5 separate regions of the Homo sapiens genome follow, and all the other regions are linked to region 4. Evidence: fine-mapped expression QTL. A gene starts in region 4. Each other region holds a variant in brackets. All regions are shown on one strand. Distances are from middle to middle. Region 1 overlaps LOC105378519 (a long non-coding RNA gene). Region 2 overlaps LOC105378519 (a long non-coding RNA gene). Region 3 overlaps WDR11 (WD repeat domain 11). Region 4 holds the start of WDR11 (WD repeat domain 11). Region 5 overlaps LINC02930 (long intergenic non-protein coding RNA 2930).

The links. PIP is the estimated chance that this variant, and not a neighbour inherited with it, causes the effect. A credible set is the group of variants that fine-mapping cannot tell apart.
Region 1: its variant is the best candidate, but not a certain one, in a credible set for the expression of WDR11 in substantia nigra (GTEx, PIP 0.56).
Region 2: its variant is the best candidate, but not a certain one, in a credible set for the expression of WDR11 in whole blood (INTERVAL, PIP 0.51).
Region 3: its variant is the best candidate, but not a certain one, in a credible set for the expression of WDR11 in whole blood (INTERVAL, PIP 0.77).
Region 5: its variant is the best candidate, but not a certain one, in a credible set for the expression of WDR11 in whole blood (TOPMed, PIP 0.52).

The regions. Positions count from the first base shown.
Region 1 is chr10:120,913,269-120,918,373 of GRCh38, reverse strand. The region is part of intron 2 of LOC105378519 (a long non-coding RNA gene); the gene reads left to right. Among named protein-coding and RNA genes, the nearest start is that of WDR11, 64 kb to the right of the region's middle. The variant C/T (reference allele first, on the strand shown) is at 3,037.
Region 2 is chr10:120,922,161-120,927,265 of GRCh38, reverse strand. The region is part of intron 2 of LOC105378519 (a long non-coding RNA gene); the gene reads left to right. Among named protein-coding and RNA genes, the nearest start is that of WDR11, 73 kb to the right of the region's middle. The variant A/G (reference allele first, on the strand shown) is at 2,230.
Region 3 is chr10:120,886,570-120,891,674 of GRCh38, reverse strand. WDR11 (WD repeat domain 11) reads right to left here. Exons shown (of 29, transcript NM_018117.12): 16 at 4,839-4,986; 17 at 2,491-2,597; 18 at 1,666-1,780; 19 at 788-959. Among named protein-coding and RNA genes, the nearest start is that of WDR11, 38 kb to the right of the region's middle. The variant A/CAAAACAAAAA (reference allele first, on the strand shown) is at 2,437.
Region 4 is chr10:120,848,664-120,853,754 of GRCh38, reverse strand. It overlaps WDR11 (WD repeat domain 11), which reads right to left and starts at 2,393. Exons shown (of 29, transcript NM_018117.12): 1 at 2,249-2,393; 2 at 1,120-1,231. The coding sequence starts at 2,334. WDR11-DT (WDR11 divergent transcript) reads left to right here and starts at 2,576. Exons shown (of 3, transcript NR_033850.1): 1 at 2,576-3,061. RefSeq lists enhancers at 1,909-1,968, 1,663-2,206, 1,979-2,448, 2,609-2,728, 2,207-2,751.
Region 5 is chr10:120,824,545-120,829,649 of GRCh38, reverse strand. It overlaps LINC02930 (long intergenic non-protein coding RNA 2930), which reads right to left. Exons shown (of 5, transcript XR_002957103.2): 5 at 4,339-4,885. The region is part of intron 1 of WDR11-DT (WDR11 divergent transcript); the gene reads left to right. Among named protein-coding and RNA genes, the nearest start is that of WDR11-DT, 24 kb to the left of the region's middle. The variant G/A (reference allele first, on the strand shown) is at 2,514.

The sequences.
Region 1 (5,105 bases), 65 kb before region 4:
GAAGTGCCTTCCAAAAGCGCAGCTCCTCCTTCCTTCTTTTAAAGTGGCAGCAACATGTCCTTGATTAAAACTGCCATTACGTTTTAATTAAAAGGGTTCTTTCATTCACAAGTCATTTTGAGTCAGTCAAAATAATCTCATGCAGGCTCCCAGAGAAACGGCCCCGTTGCCTGGAACATTCTCCCTTGGGTGCCTTCCCTGCGTGGCCCTCTTTTATTTCAGCAGCACAGTTACAAGTTTGTGCCTGAATGCTTTACTTCAATCACATCCTGTTGCTGAGAATGGAATATCCTGGGTAGTCACAGAGCTCAGGATTCACTGAAACCTAACACCATCCTGAGGCAAGAGGAAGCCTCAGGAAACAAATAGATGAGAGAGAAATTGTTTTCTTATTTCATTGTGTCTACATGTTGAGACTTTCTGATCGGGTACCTGTGTGAGAGGGACATGAGGCTTGTATGAATCTGCTCTGTTATCTCTTTTGAAAGAACAAAATGTCCTGCTACTACGTCCAAAGCAATGATTAAACCTAGAGCAAGACCGTGGTGGGGCAGCCAGCCACATTTGGCAGAGCATTTCGTTAGCAACAGAGGAGGAAAAAGGTAACGGTGAGCAGTAGGAAATGGCTCAGAGACCAGTCAAGGGGAAGCACCTACCACCCACCACCTGGCCTTCTTCCTGAAGAAGCCCCACCTCCAGAGTGGCTCCTCCACCCCCACCCAGGCTTTGTGGCAAAGGGAAGGGCCCAGGCCTTGCCCAGCAGCTTCTGTGGGGGCTGGCACTGGGGCCAGGGTCTGCTGTCCTGAAGTAATTCTCAGTCTTATTCCCAATTTCAGCTGCTTGTTTCAGCTCGTGAAGCCACCTCATTAGTGTGTTGACAACACGTATTCTTAATGATCTTTCGTGAAAAGATATTCAGAAAGGCTAAATGTGAAAAACAATTCATACTTGTTCAGCTCTTGATTTCCAATGCTTGATGGAGGTGAGTATGGCAGTTTTCAGCAGTGTGGCTGTGAATATCACCAGAGATCACCTGTTCTGTTTGGAAGGGGATTTTCAGTGGTGTCTCGACCAGGCTTGGTCTCTGTGTCCCCGTGGGAGTCCTAACTGCTACACTAGCCAGCTGGACTGACACAAACCCAGGCTCTGGGCCTTGTCTGCTCACTGTGTTTATACCGAGCTGCCGTGCCTGGCCCTGCTTCACTCTCACCATCAGGCAATGCCTTAGTACCTATTTGTTGGCCTTAATCCAAAGCATTTTCATTTTTCAGAAAGCACGACTCTGGTATAAAGTTTCTTCTTTCTCTCTGCTTCGCAAGTCTCGTAATTCACATGTTGAAGCCTTACCGTCCAGTGTGATAGTATTTGAGGGTTCAGCCTTTTTTTTTCCTTATTTATTTATTATTATACTTTAAGTTTTAGGGTACATGTGCACATTGTGCAGGTTAGTTACATATGTATACATGTGCCATGCTGGTGTGCTGCACCCACTAACTCGTCATCTAGCATTAGGTATATCTCCCAATGCTATCCCTCCCCCCTCCCCCCACCCCACAACAGTCCCCAGAGTGTGATGTTCCCCTTCCTGTGTCCATGTGATCTCATTGTTCAATTCCCACCTATGAGTGAGAATATGCGGTGTTTGGTTTTTTGTTCTTGCGATAGTTTACTGAGAATGATGGTTTCCAATTTCATCCATGTCCCTACAAAGGGCATGAACTCATCATTTTTTATGGCTGCATAGTATTGCATGGTGTATATGTGCCACATTTTCTTAATCCAGTCTATCACTGTTGGACATTTGGGTTGGTTCCAAGTCTTTGCTATTGTGAATAATGCCGCAATAAACATACGTGTGCATGTGTCTTTATAGCAGCATGATTTATAGTCCTTTGGGTATATACCCAGTAATGGGATGGCTGGGTCAAATGGTATTTCTAGTTCTAGATCCCTGAGGAATCGCCACACTGACTTCCACAATGGTTGAACTAGTTTACAGTCCCACCAACAGTGTAAAAGTGTTCCTATTTCTCCACATCCTCTCCAGCACCTGTTGTTTCCTGACTTTTTAATGATCACCATTCTAACCGGTGTGAGATGGTATCTCATTGTGGTTTTGATTTGCATTTCTCTGATGGCCAGTGATGGTGAGCATTTTTTCATGTGTTTTTTGGCTGCATAAATGTCTTCTTTTGAGAAGTGTCTGTTCATGTCCTTCACCCACTTTTTGATGGGGTTGTTTGTTTTTTTCTTGTAAATTTGTTTGAGTTCATTGTAGATTCTGGATATTAGCCCTTTGTCAGATGAGTAGGTTGCAAAAATTTTCTCCCATTTTGTAGGTTGCCTGTTCACTCTGATAGTAGTTTCTTTTGCTGTGCAGAAGCTCTTTAGTTTAATTAGATCCCATTTGTCAATTTTGTCTTTTGTTGCTATTGCTTTTGGTGTTTTAGACATGAAGTCCTTGCCCATGCCTATGTCCTGAATGGTAATGCCTAGGTTTTCTTCTAGGGTTTTTATGGTTTTAGGTCTAACATTTAAGTATTTAATCCATCTTGAATTGATTTTTGTATAAGGTGTAAGGAAGGGATCCAGTTTCAGCTTTCTACATATGGCTAGCCAGTTTTCCCAGCACCATTTATTAAATAGGGAATCCTTTCCCCATTGCTTGTTTTTCTCAGGTTTGTCAAAGATCAGATAGTTGTAGATATGCGGCGTTATTTCTGAGGGCTCTGTTCTGTTCCATTGATCTATATCTCTGTTTTGGTACCAGTACCATGCTGTTTTGGTTACTGTAGCCTTGTAATATAGTTTGAAGTCAGGTAGTGTGATGCCTCCAGCTTTGTTCTTTTGGCTTAGGATTGCCTTGGCGATGCAGGCTCTTTTTTGGTTCCATATGAACTTTAAAGTAGTTTTTTCCAATTCTGTGAAGAAAGGCATTGGTAGCTTGATGGGGATGGCATTGAATCTGTAAATTACCTTGGGCAGTATGGCCATTTTCACAATATTGATTCTTCCTACCCATGAGCATGGAATGTT[C/T]TTCCATTTGTTTGTATCCTCTTTTATTTCCTTGAGCAGCGGTTTGTAGTTCTTGAAGAGGTCCTTCACATCCCTTGTAAGTTGGATTCCTAGGTATTTTATTCTCTTTGAAGCAATTGTGAATGGGAGTTCACTCATGATTTGGCTCTCTGTTTGTCTGTTGTTGGTGTATAGGAATGCTTGTGATTTTTGCACATTGATTTTGTATCCTGAGACTTTGCTGAAGTTGCTTATCAGCTTAAGGAGATTTTGGGCTGAGACAATGGGGTTTTCTAGATATACAATCATGTCGTCTGCAAACAGGGACAATTTGACTTCCTCTTTTCCTAATTGAATACCCTTTATTTCCTTCTCCTGCCTAATTGCCCTGGCCAGAACTTCCAACACTATGTTGAATAGGAGTGGTGAGAGAGGGCATCCCTGTCTTGTGCCAGTTTTCAAAGGGAATGCTTCCAGTTTTTGCCCATTCAGTATGATATTAGCTGTGGGTCTGTCATAGATAGCTCTTATTATTTTGAAATATGTCCCATCAATACCTAATTTATTGAGAGTTTTTAGCATGAAAGGTTGTTGAATTTTGTCAAAGGCCTTTTCTGCATCTATTGAGATAATCATGTGGTTTTTGTCTTTGGCTCTGTTTATATGCTGGATTACATTTATTGATTTGCGTATATTGAACCAGCCTTGCATCCCAGGGATGAAGCCCACTTGATCATGGTGGATAAGCTTTTTGATGTGCTGCTGGATTTGGTTTGCCAGTATTTTATTGAGGATTTTTGCATCAATGTTCATCAAGGATATTGGTCTAAAATTCTCTTTTTTGGTTGTGTCTCTGCCCGACTTTGGTATCAGAATGATGCTGGCCTCATAAAATGAGTTAGGGAGGATTCCCTCTTTTTCTGTTGATTGGAATAGTTTCAGAAGGAATGGTACCAGTTCCTTCTTGTACCTCTGGTAGAATTTGGCTGTGAATCCATCTGGTCCTGGACTCTTTTTGGTTGGTAAGCTATTGATTATTGCCACAATTTCAGCTCCTGTTATTGGTGTATTCAGAGATTCAACTTCTTCCTGGTTTAGTCTTGGGAGAGTTTATGTGTCAAGGAATTTATCCATTTCTTCTAGATTTTCTAGTTTATTTGCGTAGAGGTGTTTGTAGTATTCTCTGATGGTAGTTTGTATTTCTGTGGGATCGGTGGTGATATCCCCTTTATCATTTTTTATTGCGTCTATTTGATTCTTCTCTCTTTTTTTCTTTATTAGTCTTGCTAGCGGTCTATCAATTTTGTTGATCCTTTCAAAAAACCAGCTCCTGGATTCATTAATTTTTTGAAGGGTTTTTTGTGTCTCTATTTCCTTCAGTTCTGCTCTGATTTTAGTTATTTCTTGCCTTCTGCTAGCTTTTGAATGTGTTTGCTCTTGCTTTTCTAGTTCTTTTAATTGTGATGTTAGGGTGTCAATTTTGGATCTTTCCTGCTTTCTCTTGTGGGCATTTAGTGCTATAAATTTCCCTCTACACACTGCTTTGAATGCGTCCCAGAGATTCTGGTATGTTGTGTCTTTATTCTCGTTGGTTTCAAAGAACATCTTCATTTCTGCCTTCATTTCGTTATGTACCCAGTAGTCATTCAGGAGCAGGTTGTTCAGTTTCCATGTAGTTGAGCAGTTTTGAGTGAGATTCTTAATCCTGAGTTCTAGTTTGATTGCACTGTGGTCTGAGAGATAGTTTGTTATAATTTCTGTTCTTTTACATTTGCTGAGGAGAGCTTTACTTCCAAGTATGTGGTCAATTTTGGAATAGGTGTGGTGTAGTGCTGAAAAAAATGTATATTCTGTTGATTTGGGGTGGAGAGTTCTGTAGATGTCTATTAGGTCCACTTGGTGCAGAGCTGAGTTCAATTCCTGGGTATCCTTGTTGACTTTCTGTCTCGTTGATCTGTCTAATGTTGACAGTGGGATGTTAAAGTCTCCCATTATTAATGTGTGGGAGTCTAAGTCTCTTTGTAGGTCACTCAGGACTTGCTTTATGAATCTGGGTGCTCCTGTATTGGGTGCATATATATTTAGGATAG
Region 2 (5,105 bases), 74 kb before region 4:
ACAGTTTATGGCATTCCTGAGAAAGGTCCCCATTACCTGTGCATCTCCTTCCAAGGCAGCTCAGTGTCATCACAGCAACCGTGCTGATTGCCGACAGAGCAGGGCAAGCACCAAGCTCTGACAACACCCTGGAGGCTGTGGGCAGCTCCTCTCCAGTCTCCCACCCCAGCAGGCTGAGACGGTTCTAAACGAGCCCTGCAATCTGGAAACGGTGCTGCAGAACCACTTCCCTGCTGTAGCTGCTGCAGGACTCCCCTCAGTTCCGATCTTTTCTTTCCCCTCCCTGAGTTTCCCTCTGCCTGCCATGGCTTTGCCACCTTCTTGAGCTCCTGGGGCTCTTCGGACCACACTGAGGCTGGTTCCTCTGCAGGAGGGACCCTGGCTGGATCCCCTCGCTGAGCTCACACCGGGCCCTCAAGTGGCATGTGCCCTCCCGCCTGCTCACTTCTGCCCCACTGTCCATACTGCCTGCAGGGGTCTCCTCTCCTGCTGCCAGCCTCTGGCCGGCCCCCTACCTGCAGGGCTGCTCCCTGGCCCCCTTCACTTACCTACATCTCCTCCCACCTCCCCAGAACTGCTGCCCTCCCCACTCAGTTTCCATCCAAGCCCCAACTCTGGTATTCCCAATGACCCCAGCTGGCTGCTCTCCACTGCAACCCTGCATCCCCCGACAGGGGTGGTGAGTCCCTGGAAGAAGGTGGTGGCTCAATAAGTACTTGGAGCTTGGTGGTTCCCATGGATGGGATGGGGCTGGGGGTCCGGTCCGGGGGTGCAGGGATCAGGGGCATAAGGCAGCAAAAGGACTGGAGAGACTTTGTTTCCCAGGCAGGAGGAGACCTGCAGAGGGTGAGATTCTCAGGGGAGGAACTGCCAGAAGCCTAAGAGCCTTTTTCCAGAGCTGCCTCCAGGAGAGAAGGTGATCTACCTGGCTCCGGATCAAGTCCTTTCTGCTCAGAACAAGCTTTCTGCACTTGTAGGGTGGGTGATTTTAGAGATTTGGAGAGTCAATCTTTGCTTCTTTCCTTTTTTCTCTCTCTCCTTCCCAGTCCCACCCACTCTAATCCCAGCTCCTGTTTGTCCAAGCCCCTCAAGCAAGACTCTCTTTAGTGAGTGAAAGCTGACAATGTGAGTCTCAGCCTCCTTCCCAGGAGCAGCTAAGCTGACAGATCCTTGATCTTGAGAAGCCCTCGCAGCTCCCTTCTCTGACTCTCAGCCACCCCTGGAGGGAGACCCTATTATCGGGAGACCCTATTATCACCATTTTACAAGTGAGGCTCAGGTGATAACTTGTCCAAGGCCAGGCAGCCAGATTGCCGGGAAGCAGGTGTTCCCAGCGCCGCTGCTTTCACCCTGTTCCACATCTCTGGTCCTTGTGTTTAGAACCATTCTTGAGTGGGTTTGCCAAAGGCAAAAAGCAAAACCAAGGCTTGGCTGACAGTTACTGAGGCCCTCTGAAATGTGCATTGGCAATTCCAGAAACACAAGCTCAGATCAGATCCTTAGCATTTAAATGAACTTATGTCAGGTTTGCTACAATATGATCTGCTGGAACAGCTTTCTAACTCCTTAACGGGATGAGGTATATTTTCCTTGGCCTATTCTAGGCAAAGATCAGCAACTTCAAACAAGGAGCTGTTCTTCAAATAAATTCCTCATTGATACACATTTTTGAAGAACACTGGGAAGTAAAAACCTGGAGGACTGAATTGTGTTGTTGGGCAGATAGTTCTTAAGAAAATGATCTGCATCATGTCTGCACAAATCAGCCTTAAGAAATCTCTTGTTTCTTAGGATTCCCTCCTTTCCTTCCATAACGTACCTGTGCAAACATAGTGGTTTGCCAATTTCCTCCTTGAATTGTCTCCATTGGATTATATTGCAGACTTGTCCATTTTTCACTTCTAATTATTGTTCTACTTCCTGGCTCAGCTCTGTGGGATTATTTGAAGCCCCAGTCATTGGGCCCTGTAGGAGTCCCTGACCTGAGATGCACTTCCCAAGAGGGAGGTACGTGGGTCCCTGCACCCCATGGATTCTCTTCTACGACAGTAGTGCATGCCACTTATTTGGGACATAAATATTTTTTCATCTTCTAGCCTGCCTGAAGTATTTTGGCTTAAAAATGATGGTAGAATGCAAAAGATTGGAATAAAGTGAAGATCTCATAGCAGAACGTGTTCAGAAGTATCTGGAGTAAAATGGAGATTTGCTTAAAAATATTTGATAATG[A/G]AACGGCACTTGGAGTTAAACTTTTCAATCATCTGTTGATGCCTTTGACCTCAGATTTATCAACAATAATGTGTCCGGAATTGGTGGGTTCTTGGTCTCACTGACTTGAAGAATGAAGCTGCGGACCCTCGCCGTGAGTGTTACAGCTCTTAAGTTGGCGCGTCTGCAGTTTGTTCCTTCTGATGTTTGGATGTGTTCAGAGTTTCTTCCTTCTGGTGGGTTCGTGGTCTCCCTGGCTCAGGAGTGAAGCTGCAGACCTTCGCGGTGTGTGTTACAGCTCATAAAAGCAGAGTGGACCCAAAGAGTGAGCAGTAACAAGATTTATTGCAAAGAGCAAAAGAACAAAGCTTCCACAGTGTGGAAGGGGACCCCAGCGGGTTGCCACTGCTGGCTCGGGCAGCCTGCTTTTTATTCTCTTATCTGGCCCCACCCACATTTTGCTGATTGGTAGAGCCGAGTGGTCTATTTTGACTTGGCGCCGACTGGTGCGTTTACAATCCCTGAGCTAGACACAAAGGTTCTTCACGACCCCACTAGATTAACTAGATACAGAGTGTGGACACAAAGGTTGTCCAAGTCCCCACCAGAGTAGCTAGATACAGAGTGTCGATTGGTGCATTCACAAACCTGAGCTAGACACAGGGTGCTGATTGGTGTGTTTACAAACCTTGAGCTAGATAGAGTGCCTGCTGGTGTATTTACAATCCCTGGGCTAGACATAAAGGTTCTCCACGTCCCCACCAGACTCAGGAGCGCAGCTGGCTTCACCCAGTGGATCCCGCAAAGGGGCTGCAGGTGGAGCTGCCTGCCAGTCCCGTGCCGTGCGCCCGCACTCCTCAGCCCTTGGGTGGTCGATGGGACTGGGCGCCTTGGAGCAGGGGGCGGCGCTCATCTGGGAGGCTCCGGCCGCATAGGAGCCCATGGAGGGGGTGGGAGACTCAGGCATGGCCGGCTGCAGGTCCCGAGCCCTGCCCCGTGGGAAGGCAGCTAAGGCCTGGCGAGAAATCGAGCTCAGCGCCGATGGGCTGGCACTGCTGGGGGACCCAGTACACCCTCCGCAGCCGCTGGCCCGGGTGCTAAGCCCCTCATTGCCCGGGGCCGGCAGGGCCGGCCGGCTGCTCCAAGTGCGGGGCCCGCCAAGCCCACGCCCACCCGGAACTTCAGCTGGCCCGCAAGCGCCGCGCGCAGCCTCGGTTCCCGCTCGCGCCTCTCCCTCCACACCTCCCTGCAAGCTGAGGGAGCCGGCTCCGGCCTTGGCCAGCCAAGAAAGGGGCTCCCACAGTGCAGCGGTGGGCTGAAGGGCTCCTCAAGTGCCGCCAAAGTGGGAGCCCAGGCAGAGGAGGCGCCGAGAGCGAGCGAGGGCTCTGAGGACTGCCAGCACGATGTCACCTCTCAATAAGACTAAGGTCAGCCTGGCGGATAAACCTTGGAGTCTCCTGGGCCCATTCCCATGGCAACATGGGCCTATGAAGAAGCCAGATGGGACGGAGCTTATAACAACAACCTTCTAAGGAGGTAGGTTCTAATGCACCTAGCTGCAGAAAAATTACAAAGGACCTCATACCAGTCTGTAAACAATACGGCAGTTAGACAGCTGAGATTTCATCACCAGGAAGCATTTCGACCCTAGAGAAGGAGTTATTGAACTATTTTTCTGTAAAGGCCCAGAGAGTAAGTATTTTAGGCTTTTCAGGCCACTTGATTCCCTTCTAGCTTTTCAACCCTATCATTGAAAACAGTCAGACAATGAACAGGTGGGCACAGTTTTGTTGCAGTAACACCATATTTCTAGAAAGAGGCAGGGATTCGGGCTGCCGGCTGTGGTTTGCTGACCCTAAACCTGCAACATCACTGACCAGGAACAGGAACAGGAACAGCAGAGGCCGCATCGTGTGTAGCTTTTCTCGCTCTGCTTTCACGTCGGCTGCCTTGCTTCAAGTGGTGGCTCACGCCTGTAATCCCAGCGCTTTGGGAGGCCAAGGCGGGCAGATCACGAGGTCAAGAGATCGAGACCATCCTGGCCAACATGGTGAAACCCTGTCTCTACTGAAAATACAAAAAAATTAGCTGGGCATGGTGGCATGCCCCTGTAGTCCCAGCTACTCGGGAGGCTGAGGCAGGAGAATCTCTTGAACCTGGGAGGCAGAGGTTGCAGTGAGCCAAATAGCGCCACCGCACTCCAGCCTGGCTACAGAGCGAGAGCTCCGTCTGAAAACAAAAACAAAAACAAAACAAAACAAAAAATACCCTAACTGCAAAGCGAAAATTGACCCCTCTGGTTACATTTTGTTTTGGTTTTGGTTTTTGAGACAGAGTCTCGCTATGAGCCAGGCTGGACTGCAGTGGTACGATCTAGGCTCACTGCAACCTCTGCCTCCTGGGTTCAAGCGATTTTCCTGCCTCAGCCTCCCGAGTAGCTGGGACTGTAGGCACATGCCACCACACCCAGCGAAGTTTTTCTATTTTCAGTAGAGACAGGGTTTCACCATGTTGGCCAGGATGGTCTCGATCTCTTGACCTTGTGATCTGCCCGCCTCAGCCTCCCAAAATCTGGTTACATTTTTAAGGCAGTGATTACTGAGGATTGTCTTTTTATCTGTTCTTAAATTCTCAACGATTTGTTCAAATCCTGTCTTTCTGAAGCAGCCCATCAGAGCCTCTTTTTTTTTTTTAATTATACTTTAAGTTTTAGGGTACATGTGCAGATTGTGCAGGTTAGTTACATATGTATACATGTGCCATGCTGGTGCGCTGCACCCACTAACTCGTCATCTAGCATTAGGTATATCTCCCAATGCTATCCCTCCCCCCTCCCCCCACCCCACCACAGTCCCCAGAGTGTGATATTCCCCTTCTTGTGTCCATGTGATCTCATT
Region 3 (5,105 bases), 38 kb before region 4:
GTTCAGAAAAGTCTCATGAAATTTTCTACATATCAGCCTAGAGTGTGCACCAAAGTTTTGCTGGGAGAATACTCAGGCAAGAAGTTCCCTCCTCCACTCCAAGTAGGATCAAGTATCTTCCAAGGATGAACACTGTATTGCATCAGCCAAAAGCTGCCTTTTAAACTGATAAATGGATGCATTCACAATTGTCCCATTCTTTTTTTTTTTAGAAGTCATATATGGAGTATATTCTACTAAAATGCTTTTTATTCTGGTAAAAAGCAATGTCAAAACAACCATACAAAACAGAGCAAGATACTGCAATCTGCTAATTTGCTTGACTGGTCATTTTACTAGTCACAGATTGGCATCAAAATTCATAATACTCAGAACACTTTCTAAAGTGACTTTTCAATGATATATGGTTGCAAAAGACATAAGGCCATTATTAAAAAGCCAGCAGCCTTATCACTAGATTTATGTCCTCTGATGAGTTTGCCTAAATTCTGAGTAAGCCATTTTTATAAACATAAACATCTTTTATCTTGTTAACAAACCAAAGAAAAGAGTCAAAAGGGGCACTTAAAAAACCTGAATTGAGAATGATTGACATCTATAGTTACAAAGATTGCAGCATCTCAGCAGTAAAAACACTCAAGCTTCAAGTTAATATATTTTCTTAAACTCAGATTCTAAGAAAATAAGACTGAAATGAAACAGAAGCAGCAGCTCTCTCCCCAAAATACAAGAGCTTGTGGCAAAGTAAAGACAGGTTTCAAAGCCCCCTATCATTAGGATTCCATACCGGTTAACTCTTGTTCATCCATTCTAAAGCACGCAGACTTCATAGACATCTCTAGGACTCTGATGCACCCATCATCTGAGGCCAAGATCACTTTATCTGACGTACACCAGTCCACATCCAATATACGAAAGGTCACATTTCTGCCACTTCTTAAACTGCTCACCATCTGAACCTTCAAGAGTGAATTTGGGCATCACTTCCAGACAGAAAAGGAAGATCTTTATTATTCTAGATTAAATGGTCAAGGAAGACAGTCTGTGGCAAAGGCCCAGTTCAAGTTTAGAACTGAACAGCCTCTGGCAATCTATCTTCCACAAATAGGCAGCATTTTAAAGGTCTCAGAGACAGTGATAATATTAAAAAATAAATAAATCGGCTGGGCGCGGTGGCTGACGCCTATAATCCCAGGACTTTAGGAGGCTGAGGCGGGCAGATCACCTCAGGTCAGGAGTTTGAGACCAGCCTGCCCAACATGGCGAAACCCTGTCTCTACTAAAAATACAAAACATTAGCCGGGCGTGGTGGCACATGCCTATAATCCCAGCTACTAGGGAGGCTGAGGCAGGAGAGTCACTTGAACCCAGGAGGTGGAGGCTGCAATAAGTCGAGATCGCGCCATTGCACTCCAGCCTGGGCGACAAGAGTGAAACTCCATATCAAAATAAAAAATAAAAATAAATAAATAAATAAATAAATAAATCTTGAGTTGTTACCTTTAGAACACAAATACTGTAAAGTAAAGAAAATAATTTGTTATGGGAAACTTGACGAACTCATTAAGTACTTTTCATTTCTAAATCAGAAAGAAGTTTTTTAACAAAGCACAGTTCCTATGGCTAACAATTTATTTACGTTTTATCCTCATGGAGAGGGCCTACCTCTTTAGTATCCCACACTTCAGCTCCATCATTGTACATTGCTATTAATTTTTGATTTCCTTTACCAGGAGCAAAACGAATCTTCCTCACCCAACTTCGGTGTGTGGGTATTCCTCTGAAGACAAAGAAACAAAAACATCAATACAATGTAGAGTGAGATCTGGTCACCAGAAGCTATGTCTAACATCTCTCACTATTTCCATTTCTAACAGGTCTGATGATGGGAGAACCCTTTACTTGCTGGGACTGGGGGCCACATCTGACAGAAAGGGCCTGCCCTTTAAGGTCAGCTAAGACTTCTGCAGGGGCCACTTGCAGATAACTATCTCCTAAGAATGCTTGGCTCAAGGCCCATCCTCCCAAGTTTAGGTGAAGGGACCCAAGGGTCCAAGCTACACCTCCACGAGTTTACTGATCCTTCTTGCCAAGTCACAAGCCTCTAATGGAACCATATCAAGATGTCATTTTTTGGCCGGGTGTGCTGGCTCCTGCCTGTAATCCCAGCACTTTGGGAGGCCGAGGTGGGCGGATCACGAGGTCAGGAGATCGAGACCATCCTGGCTAACATGGTGAAATCCCGTCTCTACTAAAAAAATACAAAAAAATTAGCCGGGCGTGGTGGTGGGTGCCTGTAGTCCCAGCTACTCGGGTGGCTGAGGCAGGAGAATGGCATGAACCCGGGAGTCAGAGCTTGCAGTGAGCCGAGATTGCACCACTGCACTCCAGCCTGGGCGACAGAGCAAGACACCATCTCAACAAAACAAAACAAAA[A/CAAAACAAAAA]GATTTCATTTCTTTTTTTTAATGAAATAACAAGATTTCATTCTTGGCTTATACCTGGATACTCTGCCTTTCAAGTCCCAGAAATTTAAATTTCCATCCATATCTCCAAGCACTAATGTATCACCTTTCCAAGCGATGCAGGTAATACTACCCATACTTCCCTAGAAAACAACAGCAACAAACAAATATAAATTTCACTATGCTGTATAAGACATTATAATAAATATTTTAATAAAACTTAATTTAAAGGGCTGTGCTTTAGTATGCTTTTAGTCATCAAATCCTAAAACAGACTTTAGACACTAACAAAGAGCTACATTGCCTATCAATTTCAACTATGAAGAAATAGGAGATTTCAACTTCATAGACATTAAGTAGTTACTGGAACTAGATTTAAAGAGAGGGGATGTCTTTTGAGGAACAAATACCTCAAAAAAAAAAGGGGGAAATTAAAGTAAGAAAAACAGAGAAGTAAAGGGAAGGTTTTCCAGAGAGCCAACTCAAACTTATCTCTCACTGCAAAAGGATAACTAAATCCATTCCAAGGGAAACTTAAAGCTCTTTTATAACTAATTGTGCCGTGATTTTTCTATTGAAAAAAGGATCCAGAGCTTCACTGACACGTTTTGGAACATTGTGGAATCATGAAGGTGAAGAGATGCTGTTTACTAAAGGCATATGCAGTTTAAATTCACAGAAAGCTTTGCTCAGAAGTTACATATAGAAGCACAACATAAGAATGAAATGCTGCTGTAGTCAATCTAACTTGGAGGAAGAAAGGAACTTGCAGTTCTAATAGATGCTCAGAGGTGGTATCATGGAGGGCTCAGCAGCCTGGGCTCTGCAGTCACACTGCCTGGGCTTGAATCCCAGCTTGAAACTGGTATGTGATTTGAGGCATGTTTACTTAACCTTTCTGTCTTGGATTTATTGTCCATAAAGTAGGGTAAGTTCATGAAACTTGAGTTGTTGCTAGTATTAATAAATTTATAAAGGCAAAGGCCTTAAAGCAATGCCTGCCATGCAGTAAATAGTCAATACATGTTAGCTATTAAATAATATTACTGCTCAATTACTTCTCTATTTATTAAAAGAAATTTTATTTTTGCATTTATTGTACAACATAAAAATTCAAATGGTATCCATGGTAAAAAGTAAGAAAACTCTAGTGGTTTGAATAATTGACCATTAGTGGACTAGCACACACACTGAATACCGTAAAAACTCTGGTAATAGTCAAGAAACAAAACAAAAACTGGATTTAAAAATCAATATTATAATAAAGTCCATTAATAAAAAAAAATATTAAAGAAATGAAATTCTGTATATAATATGAAGCAACATTTTAAGATATCTACTTTCCTAGCCATAAAATAGAATGTTTAATTAAGAAGTTGCCTTTGAAGAGACTTCTGAAACCAGGTCATAATAGACTCTGCAACTTCCTTCTTGCTTTATCAGATCACTTACTCTAGGGGAGGCCAGTTGTCATGTCGTGAGGACACTCAAGCAGCCTTATGGAAAGATCGACATGAAGAACTAAGGTCCCTCGTCAACAGCCAGCATTAATGTGCAATAGCCTGTGAGGCAGCCAACTTGGAAATAGATCCTTCTGTCCCATTACACTTCAAAAGACTGTAGCCACAGCCAACATCTAGATTGTAACTTTATGAGACCCCAAAGCCACCTATAAAATTATGGGGGTTGGCATTCTACTAGAGCATTCCATTTTTAGATAGCAATTTAAAATAAATATACCTATTTTAAAAAATCCCCTCATGCCTTCATTTAACCATTATAATAGCCTGCATTAATTAACATAAACATTTTCATGATCCATCTATTAAAAACTATCTATGAGATGCATGCTGACACAAATGATTAATGGCAAAACTTTAGTTACAGATTCCACAAGGCCATAAGAATATATGTAAGTTAGTAAATGTTAATAATACTATTACACTTACAACCTGATTACTATTATCCAAAAATAATACTAGATTGTAAGTCAAATCCTTCAGGGTAATGCCTGAAATGGAAAGAAGACAGATACTGAAGTCAGACAGGCCTGAGTTTAAAACACTGCTCTGCCATATGAGTAAGCTGGATAACTTTGGGAAAGTTACTTATTCTCCCACAGTTTTGTTATGGGTAAAATGGAGATAACTCCTCATGGATTATTACAGGGATAAAAATGAGTAGCACACAGTAAACATTTAATCAAAATAGTTACAGCGTTATTCTCTAGCAGTATGGAACAAGTTTAATCGATAATATCTCCTTAAATAAAGTTTATTTACATTAGGCTTTTCTGAAGTTTCCAACTTAACTATGCCTTCACTGGATATGGAACCAACAAAACAAAATCTTCTTGATGAAGATTTAATCAAGGTTGTACTCACATCTGGTGGAATCCGAGCACTGTCTTTTACTGAGTTTCCTTCAACAGTGAGATGATACACTTGGCCATCAATATCGGTAAATACAAAATGTTCCCGGGCAGAGATGTTCTGACTAAGTTCAGATTTACTTTCTGCCTCCTGCAGCAAGCTTTGGGATAGTGAAACATATGATAAAGATGTTTTTTTTTCCCCTAGAGTGATACTCATAATTAATTAACTTGCCCAAAGTACAGACGCATTAAGAGGAGGTCCAAAACTATTTTTTTA
Region 4 (5,091 bases):
ACATGACTTCTCCATGCCCCAGCTTTATTTTAGGCCCTTAGAATTTCCCACCAAAATTACTGCAGAAATCTCCTAAATGATCTTACTGCCTCCAGTCTTGCATTTCTTCAGCAGATCCTCCACTGCTGCCAGAGTTTTTCTAAGACGCGAATATGGTCACATCAATCTCCTACTCAAAAATCCAAATTCCTGCTGGGCGCGGTGACTCACACCTGTAATCCCAGCACTTTGGGAGGCCAAGGCGGGTGGATCACGAGGTCAGGAGCTCGAGACCATCCTGGCTAACATGGTGAAACCCGGTCTCTACTAAAAATACAAAAAATTAGCTGGGCATGGTGGTGGGTGCCTGTAGTCCCAGCTACTCAGGAGGCTGAGGCAGGAGAATGGCGTGAACCCAGGATGTGGAGCTTACAGTGAGCCGAGATCATGCCACTGCACTCCAGCCTGGGCGACAGAGTGAGATTCTGTCTAAAAAAAAAAAAAATCCAAACTCCTTCGTAATCTTACAAAACTTCAGGACAGACAGCTGAATCTCTCTGGCTGCCTCTTATTTCATCACTCCTACAAGTGTCCCATCTTTAGCCATCTTTATGGCACGCTACTTACTTCTGTGTATATTCTTGCTTTTCCCTGCAATGCTCCTTGTCAATTTTTTACTTGGCTAACTACTGTCTACTAGTCTTGAAACTGTAGACTTCTGTGACTCTCCTCACAACCAGGCAATATGCAGCTCCTCTGTTTTCTCACAGCGTGTTACGCAAGTCTCACTTATCACACTATCACGCTGTGAGTCTTCCTTATAAGATGGAGAATTATCTGAGGGCTTTCATCTCCATATCCATAGCATATGGTAAGTGCTCAAAACTAAGGAATGACTGAGTGGTCTTGTAAATGGTAGAACTTTCATCTGCCTTAAAATGATCTAACAACTAGCATTTAATAACTCACCCTGTATTGACATTAAGTCATATATATGAAAATTCTAGGCTACCCCAAATAGGTTGTTATATTTAAAAGCTATTCAACACTTACACGTAAGACTTAATGAGAGCTTAGTGATACACAGTATTAAACTTTAGACTAGACAACATGTTAGCGTCAAAGTGGGATTTTACTTACCTTTACAACATCAGCTTTATGCTTTTCTAAAACTTGAAGAGTTTGGGCAGTAATGGAATCAATCACTACCACAAGTGAATGACATCCATAAGCAATTAAACCTTGCCAGCCCCTAGCAAAACAGTAATGTTAAAGTTTAAGTACAGAACAAAGCAGGACGACTTCTTTCTTGCCAAGCCTAAATAAATGATAAGTCTAATTCATATGTACCACCATTAATAAAATCATTTAAACCCAAAGGCCAGTATTTATCATTATCCCACTTAAATAAAAGATCTGGCTAAGCTTAAAATGCTTGTTGAAATTCACTTTTCATTCGGATAAAAAAAGTTCTAAAAGATATGAAAATAGAGACCCGAGGACATAAAAAGGAACTTGTGCCCTCTGACTGTTCTTGTAGGCATACGTCTTTCGCTTATCCGATTTCTAATCCTTAGTATCCACAATGTGCCTGGGGATACTGCGACTAATCCTAGTCCTTCCAACTAAATAAAACGACAAACACTGCACAAGACGTTTCAGTCCTCCTAACAACATCCCACAGCCACAGAATTTTGCTTTACATTTGTCTAATGAGTAGTTTTCAGAGCTGCAGTAGTAATTTATAGTGAAAGGAGAGAGTAATAAAGACGACCTGTTGAAGGCAGGAATGTTCTACACAGGAGGAGCCCGAAAAGAGGTGAAAAGGACAGGTGAAAGAACAGGCGCCTAGCACAGGGTCTGGCACATTGTTGAAAGACAACAGGAATACAAGACAACGAAAAAGAAAAGACAGGATGGGAAAGAGAAAGTGCACAGGGAATTAATGGTGGAGAGAGAGAAGCCTGGAAGCTGGAGGAGAGGAAAAGAGAGAGGAATGGAACGGCAAAAGGGCGAGGTGCAGAGAAAACAGCAGAGAAATACGCGAGAAAGAGGGGAAATGTATTTGCATGGGGGAATTTCCCACACGGGGCTATTATCACTTTTGTAACAACAAAAATCCACCAACTGAAAGCAAGCTCATTGCGTGAGGGCGGCTCCCTGCCTTAGCGAGGCCAAACTAACCAGGGGGTGAAACCTCTTGTCCTTCCCCCTTCCCCCTCACACATTCCTGGCCGATCCTGGCGACCTGGAAGCTCGGCGTCCTCACCAGTCCACCGCCGCCTTGTTGTGGGCGTTGAGGGCCCCCGTGAGGGTGCGCGCCGACACCTTGAAGTTCACTGTGTAGGGCAACATCCCGGCGGCCAGCCCAGGACCTGGGCGCTGACCCGCAACCAGGAAGCGGCGGACACTGTGCTTCCGTTCCAAACAGAGTCCGGGTGGCCCCCTCGGCGCCGCTGTCAGGTTCCTCTAGATTCAAGTTCTACAGGCTCCGGGTTCCACCGCTCCCGGATTCCATCGCCCCCAGGTTCCGTTGCCTTCAGTTTCCTAGGATCCTAGGTTCCGCACTCTCCAGAGTTCCGCCGCTTAGGCGGTTGTGCTAATCTGCGTCAGCTGGGGCTGTATTTGGAAGAAGAGGCGCTGCCTCCAGTCAAGTCTGTTTTTTTCAGGTGGGGACTGTAGGCCTTTGTGCCCTGCTGGAAATCGTGAAAAGCAAGAGAGAAGAGTCCCAGTTATTCTTGCTGCCTTTGATAAGTGAATTTAGGGCAACTACTAGTGCCAGTAGGCATGGGGGATCTACCGATGAAGAAGACACAAAGTCTCCGCTCTCGTGGAGTTTACAGAGAATAATGAATGAGATTAATTAAGAAATGAATGAGATTAATTGAATGAAATTGCCAGACTGAATGAAGTGAATGGCCTGAATATAAACAATTTCCAAATACAGATAACACTGCATATCTGGTGTTTGCAATACTCCCTTCGCACTTGAGGAAGAAGCACTATGTCTGGGGCCAAGTGTGACCCTTTGTCTGTTGCTGGGTACCTTTCATTTCGCACTTTCTCCTCTGCTGCTCTCCAGGTCAGACCCAGTCCTTCCCTCCTTTGTGTTCAGTGTTGGGTTTATACGCTTTAACTATAGCACTTAATGCAATGATTTCTTTTCAGCAATGATATTTGCAGATGTGTGTTTCTCTCCCCAATACATTGTTAGTTTCATGCGCGTCCGTGTGAAGAGACCACCAAACAGGCTTTATGTGAGCAATAAAGCTGTTTATTTCACATGGGTGCAGGTGGGCTAAGTCCGAAAAGAGTCAGCGAAGGGAGATAGGGGTGGGGCTGTTTTATAGGATTTGGGAAGGTAATGGAAAATTAGTCAAAGGGGGTTGTTCTCTGGTGGGCAGGGGTGGATCTCACAAAGTACATTCTCAAGGGTGGGGAGAATTACAAAGAACCTTCTTAAGGGTGGGGGAGATTACAAAGTACATTGATCAGTTAGGGTGGGGCAGGAACAAATCACAGTGGTTGAATGTCATCAGTTAAGGCTGTTTGTACTTCTTTTGTGGATCTTCAGTTACTTTAGGCCATCTGGATGTATACATGCAAGTCACGGGATGCGATGGCCTGGCCTGGGCTCAGAGGCGTGACATTCCTGCCTTCTTATATTAATAAGACAAAACAAAATAGTGTTGAAGTGTTGAGGCGGCGAAAATTTTTGGGGGGTGGTATGGAGAGAGAATGGGTGATGTTTCTCAGGGCTGCTTCAAGTGGGATTAGGGGTGGCGTGGGAACCTACAGTGGGAGAGATTAAGCTGAAGGGAGGTCTTGTGGTAAGGGGTGATATTGTGGGGATGTAAGAAGAAACATTTGTCGTATAGAATGATTGGTGACGGCCTGGATACGGTTTTGGATGAATTGAGAAACTAAATGGAATAAGAGAAGGAGAAAAACAGGTATAAAAGGTCTAAGAATTGGGAGGACATAGGACATCTGATTAGAGAGTGCCTAAGGAGATTCAGCATAGTCCTGCCAGCAAAGATTATTTATTTACTTCAAGAGTTTAGAGTGGCAGTTTGGGGATAGCACCAGGAGATATCAGCTGTGATGGCTTGGAGAAACAGTGTAAACCGGCAGTGTAAACAAGAGCAGGGCATGTATGAGTAGTTGAGAATGGTGAATAGGAGTATGACTACAAAAGATAGGGATGACAAGTTTTTTGGGGCACAGTCTAAGTTGGTCTGGTGTCAAATGAGACTGGGGCCTAATAAAAAGGAGCGTCTATACAGGAGCTTAAATGGGATGTACCTTGTAGCATTCTGAGGACAGGCCTGAATTCTGAGAAGCGAAAGTGGTAAAAGTATTGTCCAGTCCTTTTTAAGTTGGTGGCTGAGCTTGGTGAGCTGTCTTTTTAAAAGACCTTTAGTCCGTTCTACTTTTCTTGAAGACGGAGGCCTGTAAGGGATATAAAGGTTTCACTGACACCTACTAAGAGCCTGAAAAACTGCTTGGCTGATTTGACTAATAAAGGCTGGTCTGTTATCAGACTGTATAGAGGTGGAAGGCTAAACTGAGGAATTATGTCTGACAGAAGGAAAGAAATGACTGTGGTGGCCTTCTCAGACGCTGTAGGAAAGGCCTTTACTTATTCAGTGGAAGTGTCTATTTGGACTAAGAGGTATTTTAGTTTCCTGACTCGGGCATGTTGAGTAAAGCTAATTTGCCAGTCCTGGGTGGGGGCAAATCCTCGAGCTTGATGTGTAGGGAAGGGAGGGGGCCTGAATAATCCTTGAGGAGTAGTAGAATAGCAGATGGAACACTGAGAAGTTATTTCCTTGAGGACAGATTTCCACGATGGAAAGGAAATGAGAGGTTCTGAGAGGCGGGCTAGTGGCTTGTACTATAGCATAGCCTGCCTTTGCTGGTATGTGGCGATTAGGCCTGGTGGAACTGCCATCAATAAATCAAGCGTGATCAGGGTGAGGAACAGTAAAGAAGGAAATATGGGGAAATGGGGTGAATATCAGGTAGATCAGAGAGATACAGTCATGGGGGTCAGGTGCGGTATCAGGAATAATGTGGGAGGCCAGATTGAAGTCCGGGCCAGGAACAATG
Region 5 (5,105 bases), 24 kb after region 4:
AGCTAACCCTATCTTTTGATGTCCTCTTTGTTAAGCAATGGATCCCCAAATTGTTTAATCAATTTGAGTTGGTTTTCTGTTACTGCAGCTTAAAGCATCCAGATTGACCTACTTTGACACTGAAAACAATACACCCTTCAAAAGTTGAACTGTGGTGTAAAATATTGGTATAAGCAGTGTCTGAGGCATTCTTTAATAAGAGCCAGTGAACAGTCCACACTCCTTGTCAGTGGATGGCATCAGATGCAAAAGGCACATCTGCCTCCTATCAGGATGCATCGGGCTCCTCTGAAAGCAGGAAGCATCCAGCTCCTGCGAAGTCAGGAGGCATTGCCTGTGAAGGCAAGCTCCCATGTGTTCCTGCAGCATCAGAGCTTGGCAGGCCCTGTTTTTGACCAGCATTGCAGCCGCCCAGCTATAGTCTGGACACTCAGCCTTGAGTTGCTCCACTGCTTTTCTTAGGACCTCACTCTGTTCTTGATTTCTCCATTGCTATCCCAACAGGCAGGGCAGGGCCGCAGTCACCGACTTGAGTAGTGCTTTTATTTATACTCATGATTAATTTGTGGAGGCCCAGGGGGAAGACAGCAAGTGAAAAGCTGTTGCCTGGGAAATAAGATTCTTTTCAGAACTTTCTGAGAAACATTGAGTTTTTGATGTTTCACACAAAAAAACAGAGCTTCATGTAAGAGCTGAGCCACCAGGGAAACCCTCCTGTGTCAGGCTAGAATGCAGGACTTCAGAGCCTAAAGTCTTTTTTGACTTTTTACTCTGCCTAAATGTTTTAAAACTGGCTTGAGAGAAAATTTGCACTCTCCTCTGAAAGTTAGATCCACTCTTAATAAACTCCACACTGACAGAAAATTCTAACAGCAGCAGATTCAGGGGGACCCCAGCCAGCTCTGCCTCTCCATCCTCCCTGGCTGGTGTTGGCTTACTCTGTGGCATGTTCCTCTTTTTTGGGCCCTCACAGAGAGGATATCTGTGGGACCTGGAGAGGACAGGATTATATACCATGGAGGAACTCCCTGTTTTCCCTTGCGATAAAAGCTTGTTGCAACAGAAGCTGAATTTCAAGGGTAGCATAACAGTAGGTTTAATAAAATATTAAAAACCATGCCATCTTAGATGAGTATAGGGATGCTTAGATCACATAAAAAGATGCTCCAAATCAGAATTTTTGGTTGCAGGGGACAGAGAACGAACTCAAAGTAGCTTTAACAAAAAGAGAATTCTTTGGCTCACAGAATCCAAGAAAGGAAAACTTCAGAAAGGAGAGGGGCACAGGTGAGACAATCAGAACTAGGGAGTCAAGTACAGACTAGACTCTCCCTGCATCTCTCCTTTCTGCTTCTCTCTCAGTGTTGGCTTTTTTCTCTCTTGCTGCAGACTATTTTTCACCAGATGGCTGGCAAGGTGACTGTCAGCAGGTTTTCAGCTATATCTCATTGCTTCCTATAGCTCTTTCTCAATTCCAGAACAACTCATGAAGAAGAACTTGAACTCACTCATTTGGATCAGATACTTGGAAGAACCCTGTTTGGCCAGGGAAAGCCAGAGATCTCATATAGCCATGTGGATGGGGAAATGTTTCTGGAGGAAGGAAAGGGTTCACAGACAATCCCTGAAAGGCTCACTCTACAGAGCCTTGACTATGTAGGAGAATCAGTCAGCAAACATCACAGCTAGAATTCACTGTGAAGATCACCTTGTCCAGGTAACCAGGAATCAGACTGATCAAGGGAATATCAATGGTCACACAACACATTACAGGGAGAGGAGAGACTACTACCGAGGTCTCTTGGAGTTGTATTTTTTGCTTTTCTCTATATATACTAGAAATACAGTAAAAAAAATTGAGTGTGTTTGTCCTCGAAAGAAATGTACTTCTCAATTTCTTATGAATCCCGTGACATACAGAAATTTGTAGACTGTGGTGGCCTGTTATTGTTATTGCTGTTGAAAGAGGAATTGAGAATCTCTACCTTCTCCTATGTTAGAAAGGAGGAGGGGTAAGGGACACTCCCATAAGCCAGGTGCTGTGCTCAGGGCTTCACATTTGTCATCCCATTTAATTCTCACAGCCCACTATGCGCAGGAATCCGCATTTTACAGATGAGGAAACTGAGACTTGGTAAAATAAGGTAACTTGCCTAACATCTCCTAGTGAGTAATGCTAGGGCTTGCTGGCAGGCAGCAGGTTAGAGATCCTCTCCATGGACCCCCCATGTGTGTGGGGTGGGGGTGCAGGTAGTTGGCTGAGAATCTGCTCAGTTCTGATGGACTCTGCCATCCCTGCTATAGACTCCTAATGAATCTCTGAGGGATGTTTACTATTAAGAGTTGCCTGTCCTCTATTCTCCCTGTCCCAGCAGGAAAGACAGCAGCCCTGGGAAGAGACAGATACCTGAGTCCAGGTAACTAGAAGCCACCTTCAGTCTAGGCTCTAAATCGGCCTGAGGAGACCCTTACCACACCCACCTCATTGCCTGGGCCTTGAGCTCAGCAGCACC[G/A]ATACAAACCATTGTTTGGAATGTTATCTATATCTTCTCTCTAAACAAGGAGTAGGCCAAACCTTTTTTTTTCTTCTTCTTCAAAATTCAGATATTTGACTTTCAAATATCTTTCATAAGCACATCATAATGAAAGTGGTGGGTTATCCAGATGGGGCCTTTTTGCAGTTTTGCCAATTAGATTACAATATGTATTTATTCCCTTAATGGTCTACAAAGAGGCTAAATTCTTTCATAATGTCACCTTGTGACAAAGCTGACAATGCTAATGAAGTAACTCCTCTCCCTATTGCCCCCTCCCTCAGAGCAGTCATATCTTACCATTTCATCTCAGAAACTCTTCACACAAAATCACTTGAAGTGCTTTGGGGGACTGTATTGTAAGGATGAATTTGTGCCATGAGTGTGAAATTCAATTTATATATTTTCACCTGGTTGTCCAAGTATAAGAAGGCTTTTCCAGTGCTTAATGGAGCTGTTTATCTGTAAATATAAGCACTAATGCAATGTGATTTGCATGGATCTGGAAGCTGCCTTTTTTCTCTGGCATGAGTACCCAGTAAACAAATAAAAGGGCTCTGGAATCAGGCAGAATTGCAAATGGCCTCTTTTCTCATGGAGAGGGTGAATCTCCAAGGAACCATAGAAATGAGCCAGACTGTACAATCTCATTGTCAAGGCACTTTGATTCCTAATCTAGAACATTCTCTTCTGAATTTTGATTCAGTGCTTCTGAATTCTGGTAATAGAAGCCCTTTAAGATCAAGAATGTCTGGAATTTAGACATAGAAGCAAGCCTGGCCACGATGATAGCTCTATCTCAGTAATCCTATAGAAATTACTGCTGCTGCTGTTATTATTGCATCAATTTCTTATGTAGAAATTTGCAAACTGTTTTAGAATCATTTCTTGCAAAAAAACAAGTGCTGACTATTGTTAAAGAGGGTTCAAAAATTGCTGACAACTAAAGAAAGACTCTGATGAGGAAGTAAATAACCGAAATAATAACCAAGGCTAATTATAGAAATCTGAGAAGAGATGATGTTGCATATAATAATGACGGTAGTAGCTCACACTACATAGTGTATGCTGTGTACTAAGTGGTTTACATCATTGAACTGATTTAAGTGTTAACCACCTGAAGAGGCAGGTATTACTGTTATTTTATAGATGAGGAAACTGAGGTTCAAAAAAATCAAGTAACTTGCACAAGCTTATACAGTTACAAAGTGACAGGGCCACATTCAAACCTAAACCTGTCTGACTCTAAATCTTGAGCTCATCACCACCAGCTCATTCTTTCAAATGCTAAAGGTAAGCGTTTCTCACTCCCTGATTTTGGGTGCTATTCCAGGTACCATCACTGTCCGAGGTAGAATCGACTCAGGTTTGTACACTGAATCCTACTTGTACAAAGCACTAAAATGGTGGTTCTCATACAGGGATGGTTTTGCCTCCTAAAGACATTTGACAATGTCTGGAAACGTATTTGGTTGTCACAAATTGGGAGAGAGTGGGGAGGTGTTGCTGGCATCTAGCAAGTGGAGGCCAGAGGTGCTGCTAAACATCTTGCAAAGCACAGGACTCCCGCCCTCGCCCCTCCCCCACAACCACCAAAGAATTATCCAGCTCCAACGTCAATAGTGCTGAGGTTGAGAACCCCTGTATTCCATAAATTACCACTTGGATTCTAAGTAAAAATAGAGCAATCATACTCTTTTGCCCCCTTTTGATGTAGTGTGGCATTTGCCAAGGAAGCAAATTACAGTCTTGGAACCAGCCACAGATGCTGACTCTAAAATGAATGGATTCTCAAAGATCCCACTGGGTGGGTGGACCAGATATTTTATTCTACAAACCAGGACACTGTGAACGGAGACATGAATTATAATTACTCCATGACAACAGGCATGAACCTGGAAGAATGCTCTCCCCGCAACCTGAGTTTCACTGGTGAAAGCATGTTAATTGCAGAAGCCAGTGCGGCAGAAAAGATCAAATGCTGCAGCACGTGTCTTGGCAACGTCTTCAAACTCCCCCAACTTAAAGGTGCATTTTCCCACCAAGAACTCAAAACCAGATTAGATTTCCAAAGGCCCTTCCGAGGTCCCTCTGCTCTCCACAAGGGTGACACTTAGCGCCATCTGTTGGTGTTGTGCAGAGCTGAAAAGCTTTTGCTCTGCAGCCAGTTTCGCTATTTTTGAAAGTTCATCATTTGAACGTTGGCAAGTCAAGGATCTTCTATAGTTCAGTTTGTCTTGGCCAACACCCCGCCAGAGAAGTCATGTGTCATGGTTGTTTTGGATAGTAAAGCAAGTGGGCAGGTCTGGAATCTGAGTCTCTAGGTGCATTACTGAGCCCAGTTATTCTTTCTGTCAAAAGAAGAGGCAAGTGGTATCACGTGTTAAATACATCCCCATGGGTATAACTAGATTTCAAGAAAAGCTTGAAATTTTTTTATTACAGCCATATTTAACAACCATAATTTGGTAGTTAGGTGACTGAGGTGTGTGCCAACTGTACTCCATCCCCTTCTTCCACTCAAGAGGGCATATCCAAATGGAAATGAGTAGATGTAATTTTATTATAAGG